2 separate regions of the Homo sapiens genome follow, and region 1 is linked to region 2. Evidence: fine-mapped expression QTL. Tissue or cell type: whole blood. Region 2 holds a variant in brackets; the other region holds the start of a gene. All regions are shown on one strand. Distances are from middle to middle.

The links. PIP is the estimated chance that this variant, and not a neighbour inherited with it, causes the effect.
Region 1: it holds the start of ACBD4, and the variant in region 2 is fine-mapped to the expression of ACBD4 in whole blood (INTERVAL, PIP 0.90).

The regions. Positions count from the first base shown.
Region 1 is chr17:45,133,088-45,139,867 of GRCh38, forward strand. It overlaps ACBD4 (acyl-CoA binding domain containing 4), which reads left to right and starts at 2,600. Exons shown (of 10, transcript NM_001135705.3): 1 at 2,600-2,866; 2 at 3,021-3,145; 3 at 3,413-3,533; 4 at 3,605-3,689; 5 at 3,932-4,052; 6 at 4,281-4,367; 7 at 4,673-4,743; 8 at 4,826-4,901; 9 at 5,934-6,073. The coding sequence starts at 3,058. RefSeq lists an enhancer at 152-221.
Region 2 is chr17:45,009,985-45,018,266 of GRCh38, forward strand. LOC107987243 (a long non-coding RNA gene) reads right to left here and starts at 4,017. Exons shown (of 6, transcript XR_007065771.1): 1 at 3,503-4,017. RefSeq lists an enhancer at 2,640-3,426. The variant T/TATATATA (reference allele first, on the strand shown) is at 4,340.

The DNA of each region.
Region 1 (6,780 bases), 120 kb after region 2:
TGAGGCGGAGCCGAGCCTGGAGTCCCCAGCAACTGGTTCTGGGTTCGAGGCTTGGACAGGCCGGCACCCCAGCCCGGCACCCGCGGTGTAGTTGTCCGCGACGTCAACCCGTGGGTGGGCATCCGTGTGCAGGTTCTGGTGGCCGAGTCGGGTGTGCACTTACTATTTATATGCAAGCACCAGAGTGCGTGCGCGAAGTGGGGGACGTCCAGGTGGCAGCGTTTCTGCGGCCGGTGGCCTGGGTCCGGCAGAGACATGGGCGCACACCGCCACTTTGCGGCGGCCAGCGGCGTGGCATCCTACAGAGAGGCTAGTGCTCAGGGCCTGATTTGCCACCTACTTGCCCTGCTCTACCCCATCCTCAGATCTCCCAGGCCCAGAGATTCTGCACACTGGCTTGGGTCCCTACGCCACTCTGGGGTCCTGAATTTTCTTTTTTTTTTTTTTTTTTTTTTTTTTTTTGAGACGGAGTCTCGCTCCGTCGCCCAGGCTGGAGTGCAGTGGCGGGATCTCGGCTCACTGCAAGCTCCGCCTCCCGGGTTCACGCCATTCTCCTGCCTCAGCCTCCCAAGTAGCTGGGACTACAGGCGCCCGCCACTACGCCCGGCTAATTTTTTGTATTTTTAGTAGAGACGGGGTTTCACCGTTTTAGCCGGGATGGTCTCGATCTCCTGACCTCGTGATCCGCCCGCCTCGGCCTCCCAAAGTGCTGGGATTACAGGCGTGAGCCACCGCGCCCGGCCCTGAATTTTCTTCTTGATTATCGTATTCGCCTTTGTGCTTTTGATCCTGCCGTTCCTTCCTCCAGAAACAACCTTCCTTATTCTCCTGGTTTACCCTTTTGTTATTCTTGTTGTTGGATAGGCTAAGTCTACATTTCTTTTAATTGTTATGGACACTTAATAGTTGCAGAGAATTATGGAGAGGCATGTAATGTTTTGATACAGGTATAAAATGTGTAATGATCAAATCAAGGTAATTGAAGTAACCATCACCTCAAGCATTTATCATTCCTTTGTATTAGGAACATTCCAATTCCGCTTTTAGTTATTTGTATTTGTATTTTATTTGTTTATTAGAGACAAGGTCTCACTACTTGGTTGCCCAGGGTGGAGTGCAGTGGCATGATCATAGCTCACTGCAGCCTCAAAGCAATTCTCTTGCCTTGGCCTCCCAAAGTGTTGGGACTACAGGCCTGAGCCACCACTTCCCGCCCAGTTATTTTGAAATATACAATAAATTGGCCGGATGCGGTGGCTCACGCCTGTAATCCCAGCACTTTGGGAGGCAGAGGTGGGATGATCACTTGAGGCCAGGTATTGAATGAAGACCAGCCTGGGCAACATAATGAGACTTCTGCCTCTACAAAAATTGTTTTTAAAATAATTAATTTAAAAAGATACAATAGGCCGGGCGCGGTGGCTCACGCCTGTAATCCCAACACTTTGGGAGGCCGAGGTCGGCGGATCACGAGGTCAGGAGATCGAGACCATCCTGGCTAATATGGTGAAACCCCGTCTCTACTAAAAAATACAAAAAATTAGCTGGGCGTGGTGGCGAGCGCCTGTAATCCCAGTTGCTCGGGAGGCTGAGGCAGGAGAATGGCGTGAACCCGGGAGGCGGAGATTGCAGTGAGCCGAGATCACGCCACTGCACTCCAGCCCGGGAGAGAGTGAGACTCCGTCTCAAAAAAATAAATAAATAAAATAAAATAAACAAAATAAAAAGATACAATAAATTATTGGTAACTATAATCGTTGTATTGTGCTACCGAACACTGGATCTCATTCATTCTAACTGTATTTTTGTACCCATTTCCCCCCCTCCCCAGTACCCTTCCCAGCCTCTGGTAACCATCATTCTGCGATGTCCATTTTGCTTACTCTTTTTTTTTTTTTGAGATGGAGTCTCACTCTCGCCCAGGCTGGAGTGCAGTGGGGCAATCTTGGCTCACTGCAATCTCCACCTCCCGGGTTCAAGCGATTCTCCTGCCTCAGCCTCCCGTGTAGCTGGGATTACAGGCGCGCGCCACCACGCCCGGCTAATTTGTGTATTTTTAGTAGAGATGGGGTTTCACTATGTTGGCCCGGCTGGTCTCGAACTCCTGACCTCAGGTGATCCGCCCGCCTTGGCCTCCCAAAGTTCTGGGATTACAGGCATGAGCCACCGTGCCCGACCATCTTCCAAAACTGAGCTGTGATGTCCTTCCTCTAGAACACCTGACCACAGGACATGACTTTTTTTAATCCCCAGTGCCTAAGTGTCTAGAGAGCTGAGTGGGTTGCCTCGGATCGGCCAGGCCTGGATATCAGCGAACAGATGCGGATTTCCACCAGGGGGCGCTAGGACGCCACGACCTTTCACTATGTGCACCAGGGGGCGCTGCCGCCCGCCTTGGCCATCCCGGGCTGGGAAGTCCGACCCTTCGATTAAGCCCCGCCTGATTGGGAAAGGCTCTGAGAAACTATTTGCATGATCTTGAAAGAGCTGTGCTGAATGGTTGAGGTAGGTAAGCCGAATGTGAAACAGGCTCTCTCATTGGCCTAAATTCCCCCCCTCGATCTGCGTCGCCATCCCGGCCCTGCTGGACCCCGGGGTCAGTAGGAAGCCGCGGGGTGGTGGCGAGAGAGGACCCAGGTGTCCTGGCAGTGGGCGCCGCGGGGCACACGCTGGGCCAAGGTGCAGGCGGCCAGGGTGGGAGACTGTTCGCCCCGCCCTGAGTACTCCTATCTTGTTTCTCCACCTGTTCGGGAGTTGGAGATGTGCACCTAAAGGAGGCGCATCTGGGGACGGACACATCTGGCACTGAGGCCCTCGCCACCTGCCTCGCCACCTGGCGACCCTGACCCCACCACACTGCCTTGAGGTAGGAAAAGGAGGCTCCTCAACCACAACTTCTGACCTCCCAGGGTGTCTGAGGCCTCTAAAGAGCTTAGTTTGCCCCTCTGGGAAGTGAATCCTTGGCTTATGGTGCCGGGGGGACCCTGGAGGCCCCCTCACACGAAGGCTGCTTCTTGCAGAGTCGCTCAAAAGTAGGGCCCCAGGGCTCGCAGCAGCATGGGCACCGAGAAAGAAAGCCCAGAGCCCGACTGCCAGAAACAGTTCCAGGCTGCAGTGAGCGTCATCCAGAACCTGCCCAAGAACGGTGAGGCTGCGGGGACTCGCATTTGGACTCGCATTCAGGACGCCTGGGGTCTGACTCTGAAGAAAGAATGGTCCTGATCACTGCAGTTTTTGCAGACAAGCCCCTGCCTGGGCTGTCCTGGGGGTTCCCTCCGCTTCCTATCCTAGTCCAGATGCCCTGGGTGGGACCCATCACCACCTCTGCCCTTTCCAAGCAGGGTTCTCCCGCCCCTCCGCCCCTTGGAGCTGGGAGTGATGCTTTGCCCTGGCTTCCCAACTCTCTGCCCAGGTTCTTACCGCCCCTCCTATGAAGAGATGCTGCGATTCTACAGTTACTACAAGCAGGCCACCATGGGGCCCTGCCTGGTCCCCCGGCCCGGGTTCTGGGACCCCATTGGACGATATAAGTGGTGAGCTCCCTGCTGGCTGGGCAGACAAGCCTCAGCTGTCAAGCAGCCCTCTCACAGCCCTCTGCCCCCAGGGACGCCTGGAACAGTCTGGGCAAGATGAGCAGGGAGGAGGCCATGTCTGCCTACATCACTGAAATGAAACTGGTGGCACAGAAGGTAAGGGCTGCAGGTTCTCTGTCCCCAGGCTCCTGGCCAGGTGGCCTCACCCTTCCAGTTCTGACCCCCACTACGTTTCCTACACATGGACCCCCTCATGGGAATCACCACCTTCATGTTACCCCCAACCCTGCCTATCTTTGGCCCCTGACTGGGCACAGGGTGGAGGTGTGTGACAGGGCAGGAGCAGGGAGGAAGGGACAGGAGGCCACTCCGTCCCCAACAGACCCCCTCCCCTACAGGTGATCGACACAGTGCCCCTGGGTGAGGTGGCAGAGGACATGTTTGGTTACTTCGAGCCCCTGTACCAGGTGATCCCTGACATGCCGAGGCCCCCAGAGACCTTCCTGAGAAGGGTCACAGGTCAGACTCCCAGGCTGGGAGCTCCAAAAGTGCTGAGTGAACCGTCTTAGGTCTAGGCTGAGGTGGGCTGGGGGCAGAGGGCTCCAGGCGACATCCCTGTTAGGGCCCCCAAGCCCCCGAGAGGTGGATCCCAGGCAGCATCCACGGCTCATCACGAGTAGGGGCTTGATCACACTGGGAGGTGCCAGCCTCTCCCCAGGCCCACCTCTGGGTGCTGTGTCTTGGCAGGTTGGAAAGAGCAGGTTGTGAATGGAGATGTTGGGGCTGTTTCAGAGCCTCCCTGCCTCCCCAAGGAACCGGCACCCCCAAGCCCAGGTTAGTGCTTGAGCAGGAGGGGTGGACCAAACTCAGGCTGGGGGAGGGCTGGAGGGGAGAAGGCTGGATGCCACGCTGTGCCCTCCACAGACACTGAGACTTCCTGTGCTCCCAAAGGTGGGGACCGGGGTCTAGGATTCCTGTTCCAGGGCCTTGCTTCTGGCGCCCATCTGTGCCTCAGGTGTTGATATCTCTAGTGCCTCGTATCTCTAGTGTCTCCTAAACAGGTGCTTCTGCCCAGTGCACACTCCTGCTCTCCCTCCACAGCTTCCCTCTGGGCAGTAACTCTACCAACCCCTCCACAGAGTCCCATTCACCCAGGGACCTGGACTCCGAGGTTTTCTGTGATTCCCTGGAGCAGCTGGAGCCTGAGCTGGTGAGCCCAGTCCCCATTCCCCCCTTTTCCCACCCCACTGTGCTCCCACTCCCACCCTCAGCTCTCTGACTCATCTCAGCAGGTTTGGACAGAGCAGCGGGCAGCATCTGGAGGAAAGCGTGATCCCAGGAACAGCCCCGTGCCCCCCACAAAGAAAGGTGAGCTCCTACCCAACCTCTCACCCACTTCTGCCCTTTCCCGTGGTCCTGGCACCCCAGGCTTTCTCTTGGCTGCCTTCCTAGGGCAGAGTTGAAAGTCCATTGCTGGGCACTGAGCGAGAAGCCTCTGTCCAGGAAGGGCTGCCAACCAGCCAGATACCTGCCTGGATGGGCAAAGTCCCCGCCCTCCCTCCTCTCCCCAAAGGGCACCCAGGAGTCTGCACCCTCTGCAGGTCCTGAGTAAGGCCAGCGGGATGGGAGTCCTAGCCCAGTTCTCCCACCTACAGCTGCACAGCCTCAGGAAGTCATCCATATTCTCTGGACTCCCCCGTTTGGAAATCTCAGAAGACAATGAGTTCTGCCCTCTTCCCTTCTAGAACTCCTGTTGTGTGTCAGGTCCTGTATGGACATTTTGAAAAGTTTCTCCTTTTTTCCTCTGAGCAAGCAGCCCTGTGAGAGAAATGACATCTTCTCCTAATTTTTAGATGACAAAATGATGCCCAGAGAAGTTAATGACTTTGGCCGGGCACGATGGCTCACGCCTGTAATCCCAGCACTTTGGGAGGCCAAGGCAGGCAGATCACCTGAGGTCAGGAGTTTGAGACCAGCCTGGCCAACATGGTGAAACCCTGTCTGTATTAAAAATACAAATATTAGCCGGGTGTGGTGGGCACCTATAATCCCAGGTATTCGGGAGGCTGAGGCAGGAGAATCGCTTGAATCCAGGAGGCGGAGGTTGCAGTGAGCCGAGGTCATTGTGCCACTGCACTCCAGCCTGGGCAACAGAGCAAGACTGTCTAAAAAAAAAAAAAAAAAGGTAATGACTTGATCTGTGTCATAAGCGGCCATGCTGGGATTAAACCCATAGCAGCCCATTACTCAGCTACATAGATGGACTTTGCAAGAATCACACTTGGTACAGCGACTGGGTTCCACTCCTACACTTTCCTGGGCTTGCCCCAGCCTGCCCCCACCCTGCCCAGAGCTGAATTGCCTCCTGAGCCCCCTTCCCTGTGTGTCTGTGCTCCGCAGAGGGGTTGCGGGGCAGCCCGCCGGGGCCCCAGGAGTTGGACGTGTGGCTGCTGGGGACAGTTCGAGCACTACAGGAGAGCATGCAGGAGGTGCAGGCGAGGGTGCAGAGCCTGGAGAGCATGCCCCGGCCCCCTGAGCAGGTAGAGTCCCCCACCCCATAGGACAAGATGATGGCAGAATCCGGTCTTTATTCTGGGCTCCTCTTCCAGCCACTTTTGTTTTTGTCCTCACGCCTCCACCTGCCCACATCTCTCTCCAGAGAATGGCATGGCTCCTGCTACAGGCAGGAGGTGGGGGTGAGGGTGGAGGGGGCTGACATGCTTCTACTCTGAAGGCACAGTGGGTGGGGCCCTTTGCCGTTCTCCCCTCCCTCTGCCTGGAGAGAAGCTAAGCCTCAGGACTAATCCCGTGTGGGAAGGGCCATGATGTGTCTGCTCTGGGCATTGAGGATGCGGGTCCCTATTGCCCCTCAGTCAGGACTTCCATTCCCAGAATTAGGATTTGCCCCAAATGGTTCAGCCCTTGCATCCCTCTCCTCAACTCCTAGCTCTGCTTGCCTCTGACACTTGGGATCCTGGGCTCCTGCAAACTAAATAACAGCTGCCATTGCTGGAGCCCCGCTGGGTGCGAAACACTCATGGGCATCTTCCCACTGAATCCACACAACAGCCCTATGAGATAGAGTTTCTTTTCACCTCCCTTTTAGAGAGGGAAACTAAAGCTCCAAGGGGCTAATTTGCCTGAGGGCACACAGCCTGGGAGAGCCTCTCTGAGCTACTGTGAGGATTCAACCATGCATGTTGGTGCTTCAGTGGTGCCCACCAAACAGAAAGCCTTCTCCAGTCGG
Region 2 (8,282 bases):
GTGGGTTGGCAAGGGCGGAGGGCGCTGGAAAGGAGGATGAATGATCCTGACAAAGGCCCGTGATAGGTTGCTCTGAAAGGTGACCTTGGCAAGGTGCCAGAGACCGAGGCTGGGGGAGGAGGAAGCAGGACCTCTCCCACCTCCAGCTTCCTCTCTCATTTTTTATCTTGTTAAGTGTGTCTCCAAAGCTTTTTGAAATCCTCCACTGAATGGGATGGGAAAAGGAGACAAAGACAAAAAAAGGTAGGTCCTCACATTCCCAGTGATCCCAGTCTGATGGGGGAGGCCAGAGGTCTACTGGCAGCACAGACAGAGACCCAGACTAAGAGATGGAGACAGAGACACGGTGTCTCTCCAGGTGAGCTGCTCAGGCTTGGACATCTGGACTGGGTGGATGGGGAGGAGCCAGAGGGACCAGAGCCAAGGGTAGGCGGGAGTCCAGTAAGAATATTGGGAGGAGGGGAGCGCCTGAGCGGGTTTTACAATGTGATGTGCAAAATCTTGTTTCATCTATTTTTTTCTCACATCCGACCTTGGTGTTACCTTGGGGTGGGGAGCGAGCAGGGCAGGAAGTGCAATGGTGGGAAATGGGTTCCGAGAGGACTCATGGACAGCTGGGATAGCTCTGCCCTCCAGGGGCTTCCATTTCCAGAGGCTTACCGGGAGTCTGAGGCTGTGAGAGAGAAAGATCCAGGGCCTGGGACATGCAAGGGGCTACGGGAGATGGATCAGAGGAGGGCAAGCATTTCTGATGAGGCTACCTGGTAAGGATTCCTCCCAGAAGAGGTGGCATTTGAGCCAGGTCTTTCAGAATGGATGGATTTCAATCAGCAGAATTGGGTGTGGAGAGGAAGAAGGATGTTGCAGGAGGAGAAGCGGCCCAGGCAAAGGCAGAGAGGCTGGACAGCCTTAGGCAGGGCCAGTTGGCACAGCAAGTTGGGCCGGAAACAAGGTTACTGTTTGTGTCAGGTGGAAAGAGCTTGATGGTGAAGGGCTCTTGGAATCCCAAACCAAGGAGTTTGAAAGGGAATTTGGTAGACACTAGGAATCACTGTAAGTCTCTAACTGGGAAGAATAGGCTGAAAGTAGCTGTACAGAGAGGATGTCTATGGAAACAGTTCTTTGTAGGATGGAACCAAGAAGGAAGAAACCTGAAACAAGAAGAAAGAAATGGCAGGTGTGGTGACTCACACCTGTCATCCCAGCACTTTGGGAGGCTGAGGCAGGCAGATCACGAGGTCAGGAGTTCAAGACCAGCCTGGCCAACATAGCGAAACCCTGTCTCTACTAAAAATACAAAAATTAGCTGGGCATGGTGGCACATGCCTGTAGTCCCAGCTACCCGGGAGGCCGAGGCAGGAGAATCGCTTGAACCTGGGAGGTGGAGGTTGTGGTGAGCCAAGATTATGCCACTGCACTCTGGCCTGGGCAACAGAGTAAGACTCTATCTCAAAAAAAAAAAAAAAAAAAAAGAAGAAGAAGAAGAAGAAAGAAAGAAAGGCCGGGCGCGGTGGCTCATGCCTGTAATCCCAGCATTTTGGGAGGCCAAGGCGGGCGGATCACTTGAGGTTGGGAGTTCGAGACCAGCCTGACCAACATGGAGAAACCCTGTCTCTACTAAAAAATACAAAAGTAGGCAAGCATGGTGGTGCATGCCTGTAATCCCAGCTACTCAGGAGGCTGAGGCAGGAGGATCGCTTGAACCTGGGAGGGGGGAGGTTGCAGTGAGCCGAGATTGTGCCATTGCACTCTAGCCTGGGCAACAAGAGCAAAACTCCGTTTCAAAAAAAAAGAAAGGCCAAGTGCAGTGGCTCACACCTGTCATCACAACACTTTGGGAGGCAGAGGTGGGAGAATTACTTGAGGCCAGGAGTCCAAGGTCAGCCTGGGCAACATTGAGAAGCCCCATCTGCACAAAAAAAGAAAAAAAATTAGCTCGCTGTGCTAATGCACTACAGGTGCATGCACCTGTAGTCCTAGTTACTTGCAAGGCTGAGGAGGGAGGATCACTTGAGTCCAGCAGTTGTAGACTGCAGTGAGCTATGACCATGCCACTGTACTCCATCCTGGGTGACAGAGCAAGACCCTGTGTAAAAATAAATACATAAATAAGTAAAAGAAGAGGCTGGGCCAGGTGGCTCACACCTATAATCCCAGCACTTTGGGAGGCTGATGCAGGCAGATCATTTGAGCCCAGGAGTTTGAGACCAGCCTGGGTAACGTGGCAAAATCTGGTCTCTACCAAAAATACAAAAAATTAGCTAGATGTGGTGTTGCGTGCCTAGGGTCCCAGCTACTTGGGAGGCTGAGGTGGAAGGATCTCTTGAGCCCAGGATGTTGAGGCTGCCATGAGCCATGTTTGTGCCACTGCACTCCAGCCTGGGTGACTGAGGGAGATCCTGTCTAAAAATAAATAAATAAATAAATAAATAAATAAATAAATAAATAAAGTTAAATCCCAGATCTATCCCTTAGTTGCAGTCTGCAAAAGAAATAACTGAGGGGCTGGGCACCTCAAAGTGTAATCCTAGCACTTTGGGAGGCTGAGGCAGGTTGATCACCTGAGGTCAGGAGTTCAAGACCAGCCTGGCCAACATGGCAAAACCCCGTCTCTACTAAAAATACAAAAATTAGCGGGTATGGTGGTTTGACTATAATCCAGCTTCTCCGGAGGCTGAGGCAGGAGAATCGTTGAATTCTGGGGGCGGAGGTTGCAGTGAGCCAAGATTGCGCCACTTCACTCCAGCCTGGAAAGAGTGAAACTCAAAAACAAAAACAAAAACAAAGATATAACTGAGGGCTCACTGTGGCTCTCGGGACCTGGCAGGTGGGCTGGGGGCTTGGTCCTGGGGTAGCCTGGTGCTTCTCTCCACACTCCTCCCCAGGCAGGGCAATTGTGCAGCTAGGACAGGGAAGACCAGTGGGAAGTAGGGGCTGGGACCACTTGGGCACAAGATCAGCTGGCCCAGGTGTGAGATTCAGGTTTCCAGGTCCCCTTCCCTGGCTCCCAGCATCAGCAGAAAATGTCAGACTAGACCCACGAGGGCCTCCCAGCCAGCACTCGGCTGCCTTTGCATTGCCCTGAAATAGCCCTGTCCACTCCTTCCCACAAACCCTCGCGCCTAGAGCAGCTGAGAAGGAGGTCCTGGGTATCCTGGCCCCACCCCAGCGTGTCCAGCTCACCCACTGCTGGATGTGCTGTGTGGCTCTCAGAAAATCACACCCTTTCTGGGCCGCCCATCCTACCCTCTTTCTCCAGCCTCCCACTGAAGTTGGAGGGCCCCTGCAGACTCTGGGAGTACAGCCAGCAATAGCCAACCAAGGGAGGGGCGGCCTCAAAAGGGGCTCCCTCCCTCCCTCCTCACTTTCTCTTTTCCTCGCGCACGTTCATGGCTTACAAGCATACTGTCTTTGTATAAGAAACCTTTTTACAGCCTTTAAAGCAGGGTTGATCACAGCTATTCCCATTTGAGTGATGGTGCAGTTCCAAGAGGGGCCTTACCTTAGATGCTACAGCCAGAAGACTAGGCACTGACTGGGAATGAGAAGTACCCAAGCCCAGCTGTCAGGCTCTTCCCTCCAAACCAGCTGCTCTAGTTGCCAGGAGACTCTGGAAAGGAGAGCTCAGTGTCTGCCCCAGCCCGGCCCCTATCCTGGCGAAGTGGTCATTAGTCTGCCTCCCCCAGAGAGCCCCTGCTGGGGCACTGTAATGCCTCAGAGGCCAGAAAGTTGCTCCCACCCCCAGCAAAAGGGGGGCTCTGCCCTGTATTTCTCAGGGGCTCACTTCACCTTCTGCCTCCAGAGGTCCCTCCTCACTATCACAGGGAGGGGGCAGGGGTCGGGGCAGAAGCTCCTATCCTGTGGGCTTCTCATTCCAGATCTCTGCTGGCCCGGTGCGGTAGCTCCTGCCACATGTGGCTTCAGGGCACCTGGAATGTGGCTAGTGCCACATGCTGAAATGATATTTTAGATATATTGGGTTAAGTTAAAAAATATTATTTGAGGCCGGGCGCAGTGGCTCACACCTGTAATCTCAGCATTTTGGGAGGCCGAGGTGGGCAGATCACCTGAGGTCAGGAGTTTGAGACCAGCCTGACCAACATGAAGAAACCCCATCTCTACTAAAAATAGAAAATTAGCCAGGCGTGGTGGTGCATGCCTGTAATCCCAGCTACTCGGGAAGCTGAGGAAGGAGAATCACTTGAACCTGGGAGGTGGAGGTTCCAGTGAGCCGAAACTGCACCATTGCACTCCAGCCTGGACAACAAGAATGAAACTGTCTCAAAAAATATATATAATATATATATATAATATATATAATATTATATATATTATATAC[T/TATATATA]ATATATAATATATAATATATATAATATATACTATATATATTATATATAATATAATACATATTTAATTTGAATTAATTTGAAGTGTTTCTTTTCACATTTTTTTTTTTTTTTTTTAGACAGGGTCTCACTCTGTTGCCTAGAGTGCAGCAGTGCAATCACAGCTCACTGCAGCTTCGACCTCCTAGGCTCAAGTGATCCTCTCAGCTCAGCCTCTCATGTAGCTGAGACTACGGTATGCGCCACCACTCCTGGCTACTTTTTTTGTAGACGTGACATATCCCTATGTTGCCCAGGCTGGTCTTGAACTGATCCTCCTGCCTCAGCCTCCCAAAGTGTTGGGATTACAGGCGTGAACACCGTGCCTGGCCTGTTTTTACTTTTTTAAATGTGACTATTAGAACATTTAACAGTACATTGGCCGGGTGCGGTGCTTCACGCCTGTAATCCCAGCACTTTGGGAGGCCGAGGCAGGCGGATCATGAGGTCAAGAGATGGAGACCATTCTGGCCAACATGGTGAAACCCCGTCTCTACTAAAAGTACAAAAATAAGCAGGGCGTGGCAGTGCTCGCCTGTAGTCCCAGCTACTCAGAAGGCTGAGGCAGGAGAATTGCTTGAACCCAGGAGGCAGAGGTTGCAGTGAGCCGAGATCACACCACTGCACTCCAGCCTGGCGACAGAGCGAGACTCCGTCTCAAAAAAAAAAACCAAAAACAGTACATTGGCCTGGCATGGTGGCTCATGCCTGTAATCCCAGCATTTTGGGAGGCCAAGGTGGGTGGATCACCTGAGGTTGGGAGTTCGAGACCAGCCTGACCAATATGGAGAAACCCCATCTCTATGAAAAATACAAAATTAGCCGGGCATGGTGGCGTATGCCTGTAATCCCAGCTACTCGGGAGGTTGAGGAAGGAGAATTACTTGAACCCAGGAGGCAGAGGTGCGGTGAGTGGAGATTGCGCCATTGCACTCCAGCCTGGGCAACAAGAGCGAAACTCCGTCGTCAACAACAACAACAACAACAACAACAACAACAACAGAACATTTAACAGTACATATATGGGCTGGGTGCAGGGGCTCATTCCTGTAATCTCAACACTTTGGGAGACTGAGGTGGGAGGATCACTTGAGGCCAGGAATTTGAAACCAGTCCGGGCAACATAGTGAGAGCCCCATCTCTACAAAAAATACAAACAAATAAACAAGCAAAAAATCCCCCAAAACTAGCCAGGTGCTCAGGAGGCTAAGGTGAGAGGATTGTTCGAGCCCAGGAGGTTGAGGCTGTAATAAGCTATGATTGTGCCGCTGCACTGCAGCCTGGGCCACAGACGGAGACCTTGTCTCTTAAACAAATTAGTTTAAAAAAATTTTTTTAAGTGTATATGTGGCTTACAGTATATTTCTAGTGGGCAGGGCTCCCCAGATAACAATAGCCCCTCAGCCCTGTCCAGTGTTTTGTATAATCTCTTTTAAAAACTCTGAGACCAGTGGGGTAGGGGCCACCTGCCTCTATTTTACAGACAGGGAAGGTGAGACTCTATGAGGTCAGATGACTTGGTCAAGGTCATATAGCCAGGAAGGGGTGGAGGCCCAGGTTTTCCTGACTCTAGATCTGAGACAATCCAGAGAGATGTCCCTGCTTCCCCATGGGCATTGACCCACACTGGATCACTCACTACACCCAGCCCCTCCTGCAGCCACTGCCCCCTTCCCACACTCCAGGAATCTTCCACTAGAAACAGCCCCCTGACAAATCCCATTAAGACAAATGCCTCTTGGGCCTCTGTTGAAGCCGAAGTCTGATTTGAGTTAGACTCTGGCCTACGATTCCCCGTCAAAGCTGCTGCCTTCACCCTGCAACTAAAGCCATGGCTCCTTTGTACCTGCTGCCACTCACATACATCAGGGTAGAAGAAGCAATGGCCACTGCTCCCTGGGACATGCCCATTTCTCTCCCACCCATACTCCTCCACCTGGGTTCCGCCTTATCTAGCTACTCCTTGAAGATGGGCATATTCAGTGATTCTAGGGGACTGTTTCTTTAATTTCCCCCCCGTCTGTCCCTGGAACGTGATAAAAATACCCAGCATTGATCTTTTTTTCTTCCCTTTCTGCCAGGATAATGTTTACCCAGGTGTCAATCAGGAGAAGAATTTGGCTTCCTAATTTCTCTTCTCCTCCCTGGGGGCCGCACATCTCCCTGCCTCGCATGGACACTGAGCTGGAATCAAGGTTACTAATAATCCCCCAGCACACACAGACACCGAAAGCACATATATTAAAGTCACATATTGATTTATATTTTCGGGTCCCTCTGCCTTTCTGCCCAGCCTCAGCCTTTCTCTTTGCCAAGGAGAAAAAAGAATTACACAGCCATATTTTTCGCCAAGATGTTTAGTGTAAAGAGCATTGTGTCTGAAGGTAATTCCCGCTCTCCCACCCTCTTTGCGGGTATTTTAAAAAAATAGTGTGGCATTGCCTATCCATATGCATTTATCTTTTTGCTGTTCGTTGTTTCAATTTTCCCTGAGGGTACCAAAGAGAGATTTAAGGTAGACTGTCAGAAGGTCTTCCTGGCTTGACAAATGGTGGGCTGCCATCTCCAAAGAGGCTGGTTGTTTCGCCAGCAGAGATAATCCTATTGCAGGTAGGGGTGGAGTGGGTAAGAGTGAGTGTAGAAGGCAGGGCAATGGATTCAGCAGCCTCTAGAGGTCACCCCAGGCTGGGTGTGGTGACTCATGCCTGCAATCCCAGCATTTTGGGAGGTCGAGGCGGGAGCATCACTTGAGGCCAGGAGTTTGAAACCAGCCTGGGCAACATGGTAAGACCCTGTCTCTAAAAAAAAAAAAAAAAGAAAAAAATTAGCCACGCATGGTGGTGCACATCTGTAATCCTAGCTATTCGGGAGAGTCACCTGGGCCTAGAAGTTCAAGGTTACAGTGAGCTATGATGGCTCTGCTGCACTCTCATTTGGGCTAGAGTGAAACCCTGTCTCTAAAAAAATTAAAAAAATAATAAAAGGCCGGGCACAGTGGCTCACACCTGTAATCCCAGCATTTTGGGAGGTCAAGGCGGGCAGATCACGAGGTCAGGAGATCAAGACTATCTTGGCCAACATGGTGAAACCCCGTTTCTACTAAAATACAAAAAATTAGCCGGGCGTGGTGGCGCACACCTGTAGTCCCAGCTATTCTGGAGGCTGAGGCAGGGGAATCGCTTGAACCCAGGAGGCAGAGGTTGCAGTGAGCCGAGATCGCACCACTGCACTCCAGCCTGGTGACAGGGCAAGACTCTGCCTCAAAATAAATACATAAATAAATAAATAATAATAAAAGAGATTACCCACCAGTTCAAATAGCACCTCATAATTACTGGCTGTGGTCCCATTTCACAGATGGGAAAATCAAGGAGTGAGTTTGCTTCCCATTGGCAGGGAACTGAGGCTCTGGATTCCATATCAACCTTGCCTTTCCACCTGGATTCAGGATTTGATGGGAAAATAACTTTCCTCCAGGTGGGGCTGACTCTTGCACTGAGACCCTGGGGGCGGGACAGCTGGGGGGTAGTGCTGGCAGAGGAGGAGCCTCATTCTTTAAAAAGGGCTCTCAAAGCACTAAGCCTGAGGCTCACAGTCTTCCCCTAACCTCTCCTCCCACCCAGAGGCCCTGTCACTCTGGCAGAGCAGACAGTTAAAAATGCCAGGCTAGGCATTTGACTCCAGTTCCCTCAGGGGCTCTTGGGATGGGAGCAGTGTTGAGCATGGGAAAGGAGACTCCCACACAAACTTGGCCCCATCTTCTTCATGCTGGTTGTGAGTTTCCTCCCCTCTCCCATACTTCATTTGCTCCTCACAAATGCTCTGGGAGGTAGAGGGTGTCAGCCGCATTTTACACATGGGAAAATTGAAGTTAAGTACTTGACTAGCAACATGTAGCCAGGAGAA